Linked DNA regions of Homo sapiens. The protein of the gene in region 1 purifies or fractionates together with the protein of each later gene. This does not show direct contact. Each region holds a gene or a part of one and is shown on either strand. Other genes may lie near its edges.

The links. Proteins that work in one complex are often made in the same cells at the same time.
Region 2: the proteins of MINDY2 (region 1) and USP22 purify together in Homo sapiens (affinity purification with mass spectrometry; 3 studies listed by BioGRID and IntAct, with this or other methods). This does not show direct contact.
Region 3: the proteins of MINDY2 (region 1) and ARL8B purify together in Homo sapiens (affinity purification with mass spectrometry; 2 studies listed by BioGRID and IntAct, with this or other methods). This does not show direct contact.
Region 4: the proteins of MINDY2 (region 1) and SLC27A2 purify together in Homo sapiens (affinity purification with mass spectrometry; 3 studies listed by BioGRID and IntAct, with this or other methods). This does not show direct contact.

Annotation. Positions count from the first base shown.
Region 1 is NC_000015.10:58,777,802-58,781,301, forward strand, and holds part of MINDY2 (ubiquitin carboxyl-terminal hydrolase MINDY-2), read left to right. Parts: intron 1-3,500. UniProt on the Homo sapiens protein: Hydrolase that can remove 'Lys-48'-linked conjugated ubiquitin from proteins. Binds to polyubiquitin chains of different linkage types, including 'Lys-6', 'Lys-11', 'Lys-29', 'Lys-33', 'Lys-48' and 'Lys-63'.
Region 2 is NC_000017.11:21,008,512-21,012,011, reverse strand, and holds part of USP22 (ubiquitin carboxyl-terminal hydrolase 22), read left to right. Parts: intron 1-702; coding exon 703-861; intron 862-3,500. UniProt on the Homo sapiens protein: Deubiquitinase that plays a role in several cellular processes including transcriptional regulation, cell cycle progression or innate immunity.
Region 3 is NC_000003.12:5,125,292-5,128,791, forward strand, and holds part of ARL8B (ADP-ribosylation factor-like protein 8B), read left to right. Parts: intron 1-3,168; exon of another isoform or gene 3,169-3,500. UniProt on the Homo sapiens protein: Small GTPase which cycles between active GTP-bound and inactive GDP-bound states.
Region 4 is NC_000015.10:50,202,696-50,206,195, forward strand, and holds part of SLC27A2 (long-chain fatty acid transport protein 2), read left to right. Parts: intron 1-2,543; coding exon 2,544-2,668; intron 2,669-3,500. UniProt on the Homo sapiens protein: Mediates the import of long-chain fatty acids (LCFA) into the cell by facilitating their transport across cell membranes, playing an important role in hepatic fatty acid uptake.

The DNA.
Region 1 (3,500 bases):
TTATGGAGACGGGGTCTCACTATAGTGCCCCAGCTAGTCTCAAACTCCTGGGCTCAAATTACAAATTATACCAGGTAAATTTATCAAAATGTATGACTTAGAATACATTTTTGTTTTGCTTCTTTTTGACTATATTTGATTTTTAATAGTTTTTAAAAATCTTATTTTAGCTGTAATAAGTGCTATTTATAGGTTTATTTGAGGGCTGTGACCCATGTAATTAGGTGTTTATGAAGTTAAGCCAGAAGGTATATAACATATATATTTTAGTGCTTACAAAGATATTTCTTTAGTAATAGAGGGAATCCCTACTTGGTTATACTTTTTTTTTATTTTAGAAAGAATGTTATAGGTTCTGAGGCCAACATACATACAAAAAACTTACATGTAACCTATACTATACATTGTGATAGAGAAGATAGAGTATTGCAATATCTAGTCATTGTATAGCATTTTAGTAGAAAAATGAATGCACTAATTTAAGATGCTGGAAACACATCTCCTTTCCTTCTTAACTCTTTTTGGTAGGGAATTCTTTTCCCAATTTTTTTCTTTGCTTAGTATAAGCTGAGATTATCTCCTGTTCCAAGTCATGGGAGGAATGCCAGGGTCCTGAAGCAGGATTTTTTTTATATAAAGTTGGTTTCTCCAAACATCAAACCTAGAAACTGTAAAATAAGGATTAATATATTTGATTCTGTAAAATAAAAAAAAGCTTAAAAAAACAGACACACACCAAAAAAAAAAACCTCACCATAAACTAAATCAAAACACACTAAAAACTAAGGGAACTGTTTGCCAGATTATATGTCTAAGGGCTAATTTCCTTTTTTTCTTTTTTTTGAGATAGACTATCATTCTGTCACCCAGGCTGGAGTGTGGTGGTGCAATCATGGCTCCGAATAGCCTCGACCTCCCGAGCTCAAGCAATCCTCCCACCTCAGCCTCCTGAGTAGCTGGGACCACAGGTGTGTGCTACCATGCCCACCTAATTTTTTTTCTTTTTTTCTTTTTTTTTTTTTTTTTTTTGAGACGGAATCTCATTTAGTCGCCCAGGCTGGAGTGCAGTGGCACGATCTTGGCTCACTGCAACCTCTGCCTCCTGGGTTCATGCAGTTTCCGGCTAATTTTTGTATTTTTAGTAGAGATAGGGTTTCAGCATGTTGGCCAGGCTGTTCTTGAACTCCTGACCTCAAGTGACCTGCCCGCCTCAGCCTTCCAAACTATTAAGATTACAGGCGTGAGCCACTGTGCCCAACCATTTTTTTTTTTTTCTCTTTAGAGATGTGTCTCACCATGTTGTCCAGTCTGGCCTTGAACTCCTGGCCTCAAGTAATCCTGCCTCAGCCTCCCAGAGTGCTGGGATTACAGGCGTGAGTCACCATGGCCAACCCTAATTTCTTAATTTACAAAGAGCCCTTATAAATTAGAAAAGGGTGAACAGCACAATGGCAAAATGAACAAAAGGCTGTTAACAGAAAATTCAAAGTTCGAATGGACGTATGCTATTGTCTCATCACCTGCAAAGTGAGGCACCATGAAGGTGAGCCTCTTGCCAGGGCTGAGTTTTTGCTCTATTTCTCCCTACCTCCTTGATGACTTTTTTCCCTCAGATTCTTTCACATACTCTCCTAGTTTCCATCTAGGTTATGCTTTTTCCTCTGACTTGCAGAAACATTGTAATCACACAAATTTTCTCTTCCTGAAGTAGCACAGAGCTCTTTTGAGGTTTTCCAAGTGTGTTTATTACTTATAAAAAAGGAAAAACAGATGGTGAGCCAAAGGTTCCATCTTAGCCTCTGCCCACCTTGTTTTTAAATATAGATCCTGTAAAAAGAGATTAAAACTTCACACAATTGTGGGGTTTTGTTTACACAAAAGACTTAAGTAACATTTTCTGAGGCTTTCATTCCCAGTCTCCTCCAAGAATTAGAATTGGTGTTGTAACTCTGGATTTGTAAGATAAGGTAGACAAGGGCTGAGGAGAGTATAAATACCGCCAGTAGGAGTTGCCCTCTAATAGTGATAGATGTGTTCATTTTTTCTTCTCCCCTTGGTATGAGTAGTCTTTTAGTTAAAAACCTTCTCACTCCCCATTCAACCTTGTCTGTTGAGTCCCAGGTGAAGGACATTTGGGCCCAGGTGGTACTAGCAATCATAGGGGCTTTGAATAATAATAGTAAGTACTCAGTTATTTTTGTGTCCAGATACTGTGCATTATTTTACATGCATTGTATGTGTTTTCTCTTTTAAGTTTCTCAACCACATCATGAAATCCTTATGTAGACTATTGTTCTTATTTTATATATATAGAAAATTGAGGCCAGGTGTGGTTGGCTCACACTGTAATCCCAGCACTTTGTGAGGCCGAGGCAGGCGGATCACTTGATGTCAGGAGTTTGAGACCAGCCTGACCAACGTGGAGAAACCCCTTCTCTACTAAAAATACAAAATTAGCCGGGTGTGGTGGCACATGCCTGTAATCCCAGCTACTCGGGAGGCTGAGGCAGGAGAATCACTTTAACCTGGGAGGGAGGTTGCGGTGAGCCGAGATAGCGCCATTGCACTCCAGCCTGGGCAACAAGAGCGAAACTCCATCTCAAAAAAAAAAAAGAAAGAAAATTGAAGTGCATAAAGTTTAAATAACTAGTCCAAGGTAAGATTATCACCCACTCTAGAACCAGAGCTCTCACTCAGGATGTTTGATTGGGAAGATAAAGTTCAAGATAGCAATAAGTCTGGTGGACAGTAGGTCTGGGGCAAAACAGGGTGGGACAGCCAATGATAAAGTCAGAGAAGCAGAAATGGACTTCATGATTCCTTAGATCGATTCCTGGGATCTTGGTACCAGTTGGTCTTTATACAGACTCCGGTTTTTAGCTCTCTGTACTTTATCTTATGTCTCCTGAAGTGTCTGACACTTCTAGTTTCAGAGTCTCTTTGGGGCACTAAGGTGAATCAGCTGGCCTTTCCCATTGTAGTTTATTAAATATATTCTTGGATTTTTTCAGTCATTAGTAACTTCTGTTTCTACTGCTACTACCCTAGTTCAGGCCTTTATCTCTCACCTGGACTACCTTAGTAGCCTTCAAAATGGTCTCTTGTCTTACCCTATTCTCATCTTTCAAGCAATTAATGTAAAAGTTTTATTATCAATTTTTGAGGGGGGAGATATTTCAGCCTAGTAAGCTTGCTGAGCTTCTTAAATATAAATAGTGAATTCTGAATGGAAGATGCCTTCTTTTACTAGTTAATTTTTTTTTTCCAGACAGTGTTTCATTCTTGTTGCCCAGGCTGGAGTGCAATGGTGTGGTCTTGGCTCACTGCAACCTCCACCTCCTGGGTTCAAGCTATTCTCCTGCCTCAGCATCCCAAGTACCTGAGATTACAGACACCTGCCCCCATGCCCAGCTAATTGTTTTGTATTTTTAGTAGAGACAGGGTTTTACCATGTTGGCCAGGCTGGTCTTGAACTCCTGACCTCAGGCGATCAGCCCACC
Region 2 (3,500 bases), on another chromosome or scaffold:
TGTGTCACGGGGGCCATTTTCTATAAGGAGCATAGACCGTTTGGGGCCTTGTCTCTGAGTATTAGAAACCGAGTTTGCTCTGAGCAATTTGGACCTCCTCGCTGTCCCTTAACTACTGAATTCCATTAGTAGGAGATTGTCTCAAGATTTAAATCCTGTATAAATATCGAGAGTAAATTTCCCAGTCTGCAAGTTTTCATTTTTTATATTGTTAAATAAATTTCTAGCAAGGAACTGGCCTTGTGAAATGCAGCATTGACTGTCCAGTGCAGGCCACCGGGCCTGGCCTGGGCACGCTCTGTGAAATGTGCAGGGGTCTCCAGTGTTGCCTAGGGTCACAGGCCCCAAGTTCTAGATGCAGCTGAGATAGACCTGTGGATTCAGAGCCTCTGACAGGGCCCATGAGTTTATCCTCCTCCCAAGTCCCTCAGTGACTGTGATGGTCTCCAGACTGGGAAGTCCTTGCTTGAGGAGCGCCCCTCGCCTTCCGAGTTCACACACACCCCTCCCCAGGGCCACCTTGGGAGCCAGGACACGTTGGGTGTGAGCACTGCTGCTCTTGCTCCTGCCCCATCCCACCTGAGTGTCACTGTGACAAAGGGCACAGCGGGGAAGGGATGTGGGAACGGCTTCCACCCCGGGTTGCCTCTGGAGCTGGGTGGGTGTCAGTCCTCACAGCCATTGTTTTCCCTCTGCTTCCAGTGGAGTCTCCACCACCATCGACCCCTTCTGGGACATCAGCTTGGATCTCCCCGGCTCTTCCACCCCATTCTGGCCCCTGAGCCCAGGGAGCGAGGGCAACGTGGTAAACGGGGAAAGCCACGTGTCGGGAACCACCACGCTCACGGACTGCCTGCGACGGTGAGAGGCCTGCACCCACACGGCGGGGGCGTGTCTCCTGGCCAGAAGGCTGTGCTCCATCAGGACCAAAGCAGGGCTCTTTCACATGCCCAGGACAGAGCCTGGGCAAAGGTGCAGCATGAGCCTGGATTGGCTGCAGTCTCTTGTGCTAGTTTGTCCTTTGTTTTGGCCAGATGACTCAATATTTCTGTCCCCCAGCTTCGCACAGCACCAGGTGTCAGTGTCAGCAGCTGCTACTCCAACCTCCGCATGTAAATGAACCCAGAGCCAAACTGGCTGCTCCCTTAGCCCTTGCACTAATCACCTACCCCGGAGTGTGAGCTGAGATGCGCCCGGGCCTCTCCCCATGGTCCACGGCCTTCTCTGCACATGATTAAAACTTAGTTGTGATGTTCTGTACTCTTAGGGCTGTTTTTGAAATTGTGCATGTACTGCTTCATTTGGGATAAGTAATAATATTTACAAAGTGATTTTTTTTTTTTTTTTTGAGACAGAGTTGTGCTCTGTCGACCAGGCTGGAATGCAGTGGTGCGATTTCTGCTCACTGCAGCCTCTGCCTTTCAGGTTCAAGTGATTCTCCTGAGTAGCTGGGACTACAGGTGTGCACCACCACGCCTGGCTAATTTTTGTATTTTTAGTAGAGCGGGGGTTTTACCATGTTGGCCAGGCTAGTCTCGAACTCGTGATATCAGGTGATTCACCCACCTCGGCCTCCCAAAGTGCTCACAGGCATGAGCCACCACACCTGTGAGTGATTTTTAAAAAAAAATGTATTTAAGTAGCTGTAGCATACAATTGTAAAGACAGCAGAAAACCTTCCTAAAATTTGTCTATTATTTTATAGCCTTTGTTTTATTTGCATCAATTAAAGGTAATGCAGAAGAGTCCTTGTTGAGTGGAAGTATCCCTTAGAAGAGGTACGAGCCTTTGGTTTCTGTCTGGCTGCATAGTCAGCACGACCAAAGTTGCATGTTTATTTTGTTTTTTGAGATAGGGTCTTGCTCTTTCATGCAGGCTGGAGTGCAGTGGTGCCATCATAGCTCACTGCAACCTCGATCTCCTGGGCTCAGCCTCAGTGTCCAGGGCTCAGCCTTGGTCTCCTGTCTCGGCCTCCTGAGTAGTTGGGACTATAGGTGTGTGCCACCATGCCCAGCTGATTTTGTGATTTTTTTTTTTTTAATTTTTTTTTTTTGAGACGGAGTCTCGCTCTTTCTAGAGTGCAGGCTGGAGTGCAGTGGCGCGATCTTGGCTCACTGCAACCTCCACCTCCCAGGTTCACGTGATTCTCCGGCCTCAACCTCCCGAGTGGCTGGGATTACAGGTGCTTGCTACCATATCCGGCTAACTTTTGTATTTTTAGTAGAGACTAGGTTTCGCCACATTGGCCAGGGTAGTCCCAAACTCCTGACCTTAGGTGATCCGCCTGCCTTGGCCTCCCAAAGTGCTGGGATTACAGGTGTGAGCCAGCATGCCCGGCCAACCAAAACCTTTTTAAAGAAAGTCTTTGCAGCTAAATTAAATTTAATCATAAATTCCAATAAAATGAAAGCTTTGCCAAAACAGCAGGCCATGAGGTAGAAACCACACTTCACAAACTACAATGTGTGGGAAGCCTGTGTTGTTAGGAGAGACATGATGTGGTGCTGACTCCCGGGAAGGTGGAGGAGAGGTAGAGTGCACCCGGGTCCCCACTTTGTATTGCAAGCAAAGGCTCCTTTTCGAGTCCTTTGGAGAGCAGATCACAAAGCTAGCAACGAAACAGGTGCAGCTTTGCCCAGAGGCCCCCTCGTCTTGCCCTAGTTAAGATGGCAGAATTTCCAGAGCATAAATAAGGGCTTTCCATACCTGCTTGTGAAAAGAGTGAATTTTTTGCTGGTGTTTCAGCTTCAAAATTTGGCGTGTGCTTTGTTGAATCATCTGTTCTGCAGGTTTTGTCAGTGGCAGCTGACACCTGTGCCAGACACGCTTCTGATGCAGCCCTCCTACCTCCTGCCTCTGCACGGTCAGGAAATTACCTTTCCCAGTCCTCTTGCCTTTTTTTTTTTTTTTTTTTTTTTTTGAAATGGAGTCTTGCTCTTGTTGCCCAGGCTGGAGTGCAGTGGCACAATCTCGGCTCACTGCAACCTCCATCTCCCAGGTTCAAGCGGTTCTCCTGCCTCAGCCTCCTGAGTAGCTGGGATTATAGGCATGCACCACCTCGCCCGGCTAATTTTGTATTTTTAGTACAGACGGAATTTCTCTTATGTTGGTCAGGTTGGTCTTGAACTTCCAACCTCAGGTGATCCACCTGCCTCAGCCTCCCAAAGTGGTGGGATTACAGGTGTGAGCTGCCGCACCTGGCCGACCTCTCACCTCTCTACATTAAACTGCTTATGTTGAGATCATTGTAGATTCACATGCAGTTGTAAGAAGCCTTTAGGTACCCTTTACCCCGGTCCCCCGATGGTGACCTCCTCAGCACTGTGGTGCGACGCCCTGGCCAGGATTCAGACATTCATGCGGAAAGTACCCAGCATCTCCAGTGCCTCCTCCCTCACCACCCACTCTGTAACCGCAGTCACCCTGGACTCCTGCATTTCCATACGCCTGACAATTCCAGAATGTCATGTCAACTGAATGATATAACGGAACCCTTTGAG
Region 3 (3,500 bases), on another chromosome or scaffold:
CTGTTTAATGCAGGAACGATGGCTTGAAAAATACTGAGAAGGGACTCAACTGGTATCATTTTCTACTTTGAATCACTGTATCTATCCAGATGTGGGCTGCAGTAGTGGATTTATGGATTGGGGAAAGTAATCGCATCATGTGTTCCCCCCTGCCCCGCCCCCACCATTAGATTATTATATTTAACAACAACAAAACTTCTGCAAAGCTGTTGAAGTCAAAGTGAACCAGTGGCTCCACCATTATCTTTTTTTTTTTTTTGAGACGGAGTCCCGCTGTGTTGCCCAGGCTGGAGTGCAGTGGCATGATCTTGGCTCACTGCAACCTCTGCCTCCTGGGTTCAAGCTATTCTCGTGCCTCAGCCTCCCGAGTAGCTGGGACTACAGGCGACTGCCACCATGCCCAGCTAATTTTTGTATTTTTAGTAGAGACGGGGTTTCACCATGTTGGGCAGGCTGTTCTCGAACTCCTGGTCTCAAGTAATATGCCTGCCTTGGTCTCCCAAAATGCTGGGATTACAGGCGTGAGCCACTGTGCCCAGCCCACTGTTATCATTAGACTATTCTTTTTAAAATTGTAATGGTGTGGGTAGCTTCAGTTAAGAAAAAAAAAGTCACAAAGATAAGGTGATGGATGTGTAATTGGCTTGAATTAGTCATTCCACACTGTAAACATGTATCAGAACATCTCATTGTACTCCATAAATGTATACAATTATGATTTGTCAATTAAAAGTAATATTAATTTAAAAAAGAAAAAAGACATCTGGGCTGTAATTGGCTGTGGCTTTTAAGATGCTGAAAGGGACCCCCTCAGTGAATTTCATACTTTTTTTTTTTTTTAACCTCAAGGCTCTAACCTAACCCCTGATTCTTATAGAATATGTTGAGGATGTAGTGATTAAAATCCAAGTTAGTGATTAAAGATGATTTTAGAGATTTTTAGGTAGAAACAATGTGTCCAAAATAGTAAGTTTAGCCTTTTAAAAAATCAGCTGCACTTTTTGTATTGTATATAAAATAGTTGCTTTATAGAATCAGAAATACAGATGTATTGAGTACTATGTGTCACTCTAGAAAGGTGACCATTTACTTATTCACATTTAAGAAGCGACTTCTCAGGTATGAAAAGCTTCAGCTGAAGCCAATTTTCTTTTTGTAAAAATCAACATTTTGTAAACATTAAAATGTCACTACATGTGCCTTAAACATTAAGGAAGATTTAATAGATGTCATTTAACTTACTCAAAAGGTTCATGAGACTGAATTACTATTATATGTAGGGTTTGGTTTGAGTCTAAAAGATAATGCAGCTTAGTTACAGAATGCTCAGACTTAGAATGCCTTTCCTTAGGATTTTAAAACTGAAATGATACCTAATTTAATCCAGTTTTATGTAGAGACACTTGATATATGTAGTGTTCTCTTTTGTTTTGAACATTATAAAAAAGAAACACCCTAGTCTTGTCTTTTCTGATTAGTGTCAAGGAATGAAGTATTTTTTCCATTGCTAACTGTTCTGGCAGTTATTGCACAATAAGTCATGTGCCTATATGTGTAATGTATATTGAGTAATCTTTATTTTTAACTGGGGCTTTTAGATATGTTATAGTTATTAAAAAATATCTAATAGGATTTGCCAAAATAATATAGGATAAATCTTATGGACATTATGTATTTTTTAAATGGAAGTATAAAAATTTGTCTACACTTTTGCACATTGTTGATACCTGAAAGGTTAATCCAAGGGAAAGTTTATTACTGCTGAGAATTAGGAAAAGAAGATATTTGGGAAGACTGTAGAAATATGAACCTAGAATCATTTTTTAAAGAGTTTGTAGAAACCTTGATTAAGTAGTCTAATTTTCCCCTCATTTTTTAGATGTGGCTAGCAGATCCAGTGAGGTTAAGTGGAATTCCAAGGCAACAAAGCTAATTCGTAGCAGAGATAGAATTAGAATCTGGGGCCAGTGTACTTTCTACTTTTCCCACCTCTTTAGATCCAGCTGAGGTTAGAACCATAGAACTGTGGATTGGGAGATCTTAATCCATTAAACATCTTTTTTGTATTTAATTTAATTTAAAAAATCAGCTGCAGTTTTTGTATCGTATATGAAATGTTTGCTTTATAGAATAAGAAATACAGACGTAATGAGTACTGTGTGTCTCTCTAGAGAGAGCATTTTAAATCCAGGCATCTTAAGCATACTGACTAACATTTGAGGACTATATATTTATCTATGAACATGAATTAGGAGAAGGAATGATAATCTGTGGAAAGTAAGAGTGGAATATTATGTTTGGATATTTAAATAACTGGCTAACAGGCATTACTGAGTTGTTGAACTACTTTTAGTATCTTTAAAAAGCAGAGGGAGATCAAGACCATCCTGGCTAATGCGGTGAAACCCCGTCTCTACTAAAAATACAAATAATTAGCTGGGTGTGGTGGTGGGCACCTGTAGTCCCAGCTACTCGGGAGGCTGAGGTAGGAGAATGGCGTGAACCTTGGAGGCAGAGCTTGCAGTGAGCCAAGATTGCGCCACTGCACTCCAGCCTGGGCAACAGAGCGAGACTCCGTCTCAAAAAAAAAAAAAAAAAAAAAAAAAAAAAGCGGAGGGCCAGGCGCAATGGCTTACGCCTGTAATCCCAGCACTTTGGGAGGCCAAGGCGGCCGGATCATGAGGTCAGGAGTTTGAGACCAGCCTGACCAACATGATGAAACCCCATCTGTACTAAAAATACAAAAATTAGCCTGGCGTTACTCAGGAGGCTGAGGCAGGAGAATTGCTTGAACCTGGGAGGCGGAGGTTGCGTTGAGCCGAAATTGAGCGACTGCACTCCAGCCTGGGCAACAGAGTGAAAATCCGTCTCAAAAAAAAAAAAAAAAAAAAAGCAGAAATAATTTTGTATTTGATTGTATTGCTTATTATTTAATTTCTTTGGAGGTAAGAATGGCAAAAACCATTTTTAAAGAAAATGGGCTGTGGTTCAAGTCTAGATGTTTTACACATCTGAAACTTGACTGGAGAAGCTAGTCTTCCAATAAGGTGGTCTTCAAGTATAGATTCTGAGTTGTGGAAAATGAGGCATCTTACAAAGGAACATCTCTACCTTCCATAAAGTTTTCTACCCTTCATCCCCGCTCCAATTATTTGTTTTTCCTTGCAGACCAAGAATCTTGAAAGCCAAATGTTCTCATTAAGAAGCTGTTAGAGTGCAATAATGCATTCTAAATGCCTGTCTTAGAAGATATTTCACAAGTTAATGGATTTTTTAAGTTTTTCAAAGATATAGTAAGTGGATGGTTACTGAACATGGATACAAAATACATTGAACCTATAAAAAAGTTACTCAAATATTATTAAAAAATTTTTTTTCTGAAATTTTTTTTGTGTTATCAAAACAATACAGGCTCATTAGCGGAGATGTGAAAAGAATAGTATAAGGTAGAAGAAGCCACTTATTTCTACCATCCAAGATTAACTACTGTCAACATTAAA
Region 4 (3,500 bases), 8.6 Mb from region 1:
CAGAAGGAACAGTAATACAAAATTTGGCTACGTTGCTGTCTGCTAGGAACAGTTTTCAATTTTGCATTAACAATAAGGCAATTTGAATCACATATTACAAGCAAGCATCTAAAATAATCTGTTTTTCATGCCTGCCTATCTAATAATGTAATGCTATAATTGTTCAGTATATCAAGAGACAAACTCCTTTAAAATATTTTAGGGCTGGGTGCAATGGCTCACACCTGTATTCCCAGCACTTTGGGAGGCCAAGGCAGGAGGATTGCTTGAGGCCAGGAGTTCAAGACCAGCCTGGGCAACATAGCAAACCTCATCTCTAAAAAAAATATATATATATATATATATAGCCAGGCATGGTGGCTCAAGTCTGTAGTCCCAGCTACCCAGGAGGCTGAAGTAGAAGAATTGCTTGAGTCCAAGAGTTCAAGATTGCAGTGAGCTGTGATTGCACCACTGCACTCCAGCCTGGGTGACAGAGTGAGACCTTGACTGTAAAAAAAAAAATTTTAGGTTATGACACTTGAGTCTTAGATTCTATGTCATGTCATTTCCATCTTTAGAAACTTGCATGTTAATCTCCATCAGCTTTAAACTTCTGCAGTTGTGTGCACTCTTCTGTAATCTCCCATTTCCACAGCTTTTCAGCTCTACTAGAAGGAGAGAAGATGGCAACTCCATCAGAATACTTGGCTTGGCTTGGCTTGCCATCTCTTCTGTTTCCTTCTCAGACTTTACTATTCAAATTGGAGTTGCCATCCTCTCTCCTTCCAGGAGGATTCATGTCACTTGTATACATTACCGCAAAGTTCAATAGCCAACTCTTCCAGGAAGCTATATGTAACTTTCTGACTGAGCTAAATAAACAACTTTTTCTCTCATGTGGCATTTCATTTTAAATAATCATATATGTATATATAAAAATATATACACATATGTATATACACACACATATATGCGTGTGTGTATATGCATGCATGTTATGGATGGATATTTGTGTCCCCCAAAAATGTATATGTTGAAATCCTAACCCCCAATATGATGGTATTAGCAGGTAGGGCCTTTGGGAAGTAATTGGGTCATGAGAGTAGTGCCTTCATGAAAGGTAGTGCCCTTATCAGAACAGGAGACAGCCAGCTTCTTTCCTGACTCTGTTCTGTTCCATGTAAGGACACAGGGAGATGATGACCATCCCCAAACCAGGAAAAATGCCCTCACCAGACACCAGACACCTTGATCGGGACTTCCCAGCCTCCAGAACTGCAAGAGATAAATGTTGTTTAAGCCACCCATCTGTACTATTTTGTTATAGCAGCTCAAACACACACACATACACACACACACACACAATCCAAAAATTTGAAATCCAAAATGCTCCAAAATCTGTAACTTTTTAAGCACCAGGACACCACAAGTGGAAAATACTACACATAAGTACTTAACACAAACTTTGTTTTATGCACAAAGTTATTTAAAATATTGCATGAATGGGCCAGGCACAGTGGCTTATGCCTGTAATCCCAGCACTTTGGGAGGTTGAGGTGGGCGAATCACTTGAGGTCAGGAGTTTGAGACTAGCCTGGTCAACGTGGCAAAACCCCATCCCTTCTTAAAAAATACAAAAATTAGCCAGGCATGATGGTGTCCACCTGTAATCCCAGCTACTTAGAGGCTGAGGCACGAGAACCCACAAGGCAGAGGTTGCAGTGAGCCAAGATTTCACCACTGAACTCCAGCCTGGGCAATAGAGTGAGACCCGGGCCAGGTACGGTGGCTCACGCCTGTAATCTCAGCACTTTGGGAGGCCAAGGGGTACAGATCACGAGGTCAGGAGATTGAGACCATCCTGGCTAACACAGTGAAACCCCTTCTCTACTAAAAATACAAAAAATTTGCCAGGTGTGGTGGCACGCGCCTGTAATCCCAGCTACTCAGGAGGCTGAGGCAGGAGAATCACTTGAACCTGGGGGGCGGGTGTTGCAGTGAGTCGAGATGGCACCACTGCACTCCAGCCTGGGTGACAGAGCGAGACTCTGTCTCAAAAAAAGAAAAAAAAATAGAGCAAGACTCTGTCTCAAATATATATATATAAAATACATATATATGTATGTGTGTGTGTATATATATAATATATATGTATGTGTGTGTATATATATGTATGTGTGTATATATATATACTTGAGACAGAGTCTCACTCTATTTATACATATATTTAGTATATATATAATATAATATATATATATATTGCATGAAATCTCTTTCCCTCTCCCCTCCCTCCCTCTTAGGACTTCATTTGAATCTCTTACTGCAAGCTAACTTTTATTAAAATGACCTTTGTATGAGTCTTCTCCTCCATAGATTGGAAGCCCCTATCGAACAAAACCATGTCTTACTAATTTTTTGCATTTGAATATAAGGTACTCAATACTTGTTTGCAAATATAATTTATTTTTAAATTTCTACCGTTCAAAGTTGACAAATTAAACATAACTGGGAGAATTTTTTCCACCATTTCTTTCTTGACACTTTCTGTGCTTTCTCTGTAGGTGCTACTCTTGCCTTGCGGACTAAATTTTCAGCCAGCCAGTTTTGGGATGACTGCAGAAAATACAACGTCACTGTCATTCAGTATATCGGTGAACTGCTTCGGTATTTATGCAACTCACCACAGGTAACACTCCCCCCGTTTTACTATCATTTTGAAATGGGTAAGATGGAAATTCAAGTCACTTTGGGTTGTGCTAGGCTTCAACTGATTTGCATATATCAGTTTTGAGTTTAGGATACAATTATCATGATAAAGTACTTGGCACTATACCTACCATATAGAGGGGACTTAGTAGGTGGGAGTTAATATTATTATTATGATGATGATTATTTCCTGCCTTTTTACTTGTTTTCACATCTTACTCCCCACCTAGCATATCCTGCATTTCCCCCTCTGCTTACTAAAAGCCAGTGTCAAAGCCCAGTTCAAATGATACCTCATACATTAAACATATTTGGGTCACTCCAACAAAAGTCATTACTCTTCTCCCCTACGTCATTTTATTTCTACCCTCTGTGGCCCTTGTCATGTTGCAGGAGTTTGTGTTCATGTCTCCCATCCTTCCTTGGCTGTAATATCTTTGATGGCTGGAACCACATCTTGTCTCCTTGTTTTCTGTTATACCGAAGGCATACAGGAAACTTTTACTTAATGCTGTTTAACAAATAAATCTCTGTGTGACTTTGAAACCAGCCAGCCAAGTCTGTCACCAAGCTGGGAACAGATGCCCCAGGGCATCTCCAATGGCCTTGGATCTGCCCTGTTTGCAGATGTTCAGCTCTCGATGGGGTTGTTCTCAAGAGCTCCTCCTGCCCAGTCCCTCAACTCTCATCAGAGATCTGGTATCAGATAGGATTTATCAATGGTGGCACTGCTGACATTTTGGGCTTTTAATTCTTTGCCGCGCGGACTTATTCTGTGCATTGTAGAGTGTTTAGCACCCTTTGGACTTTGC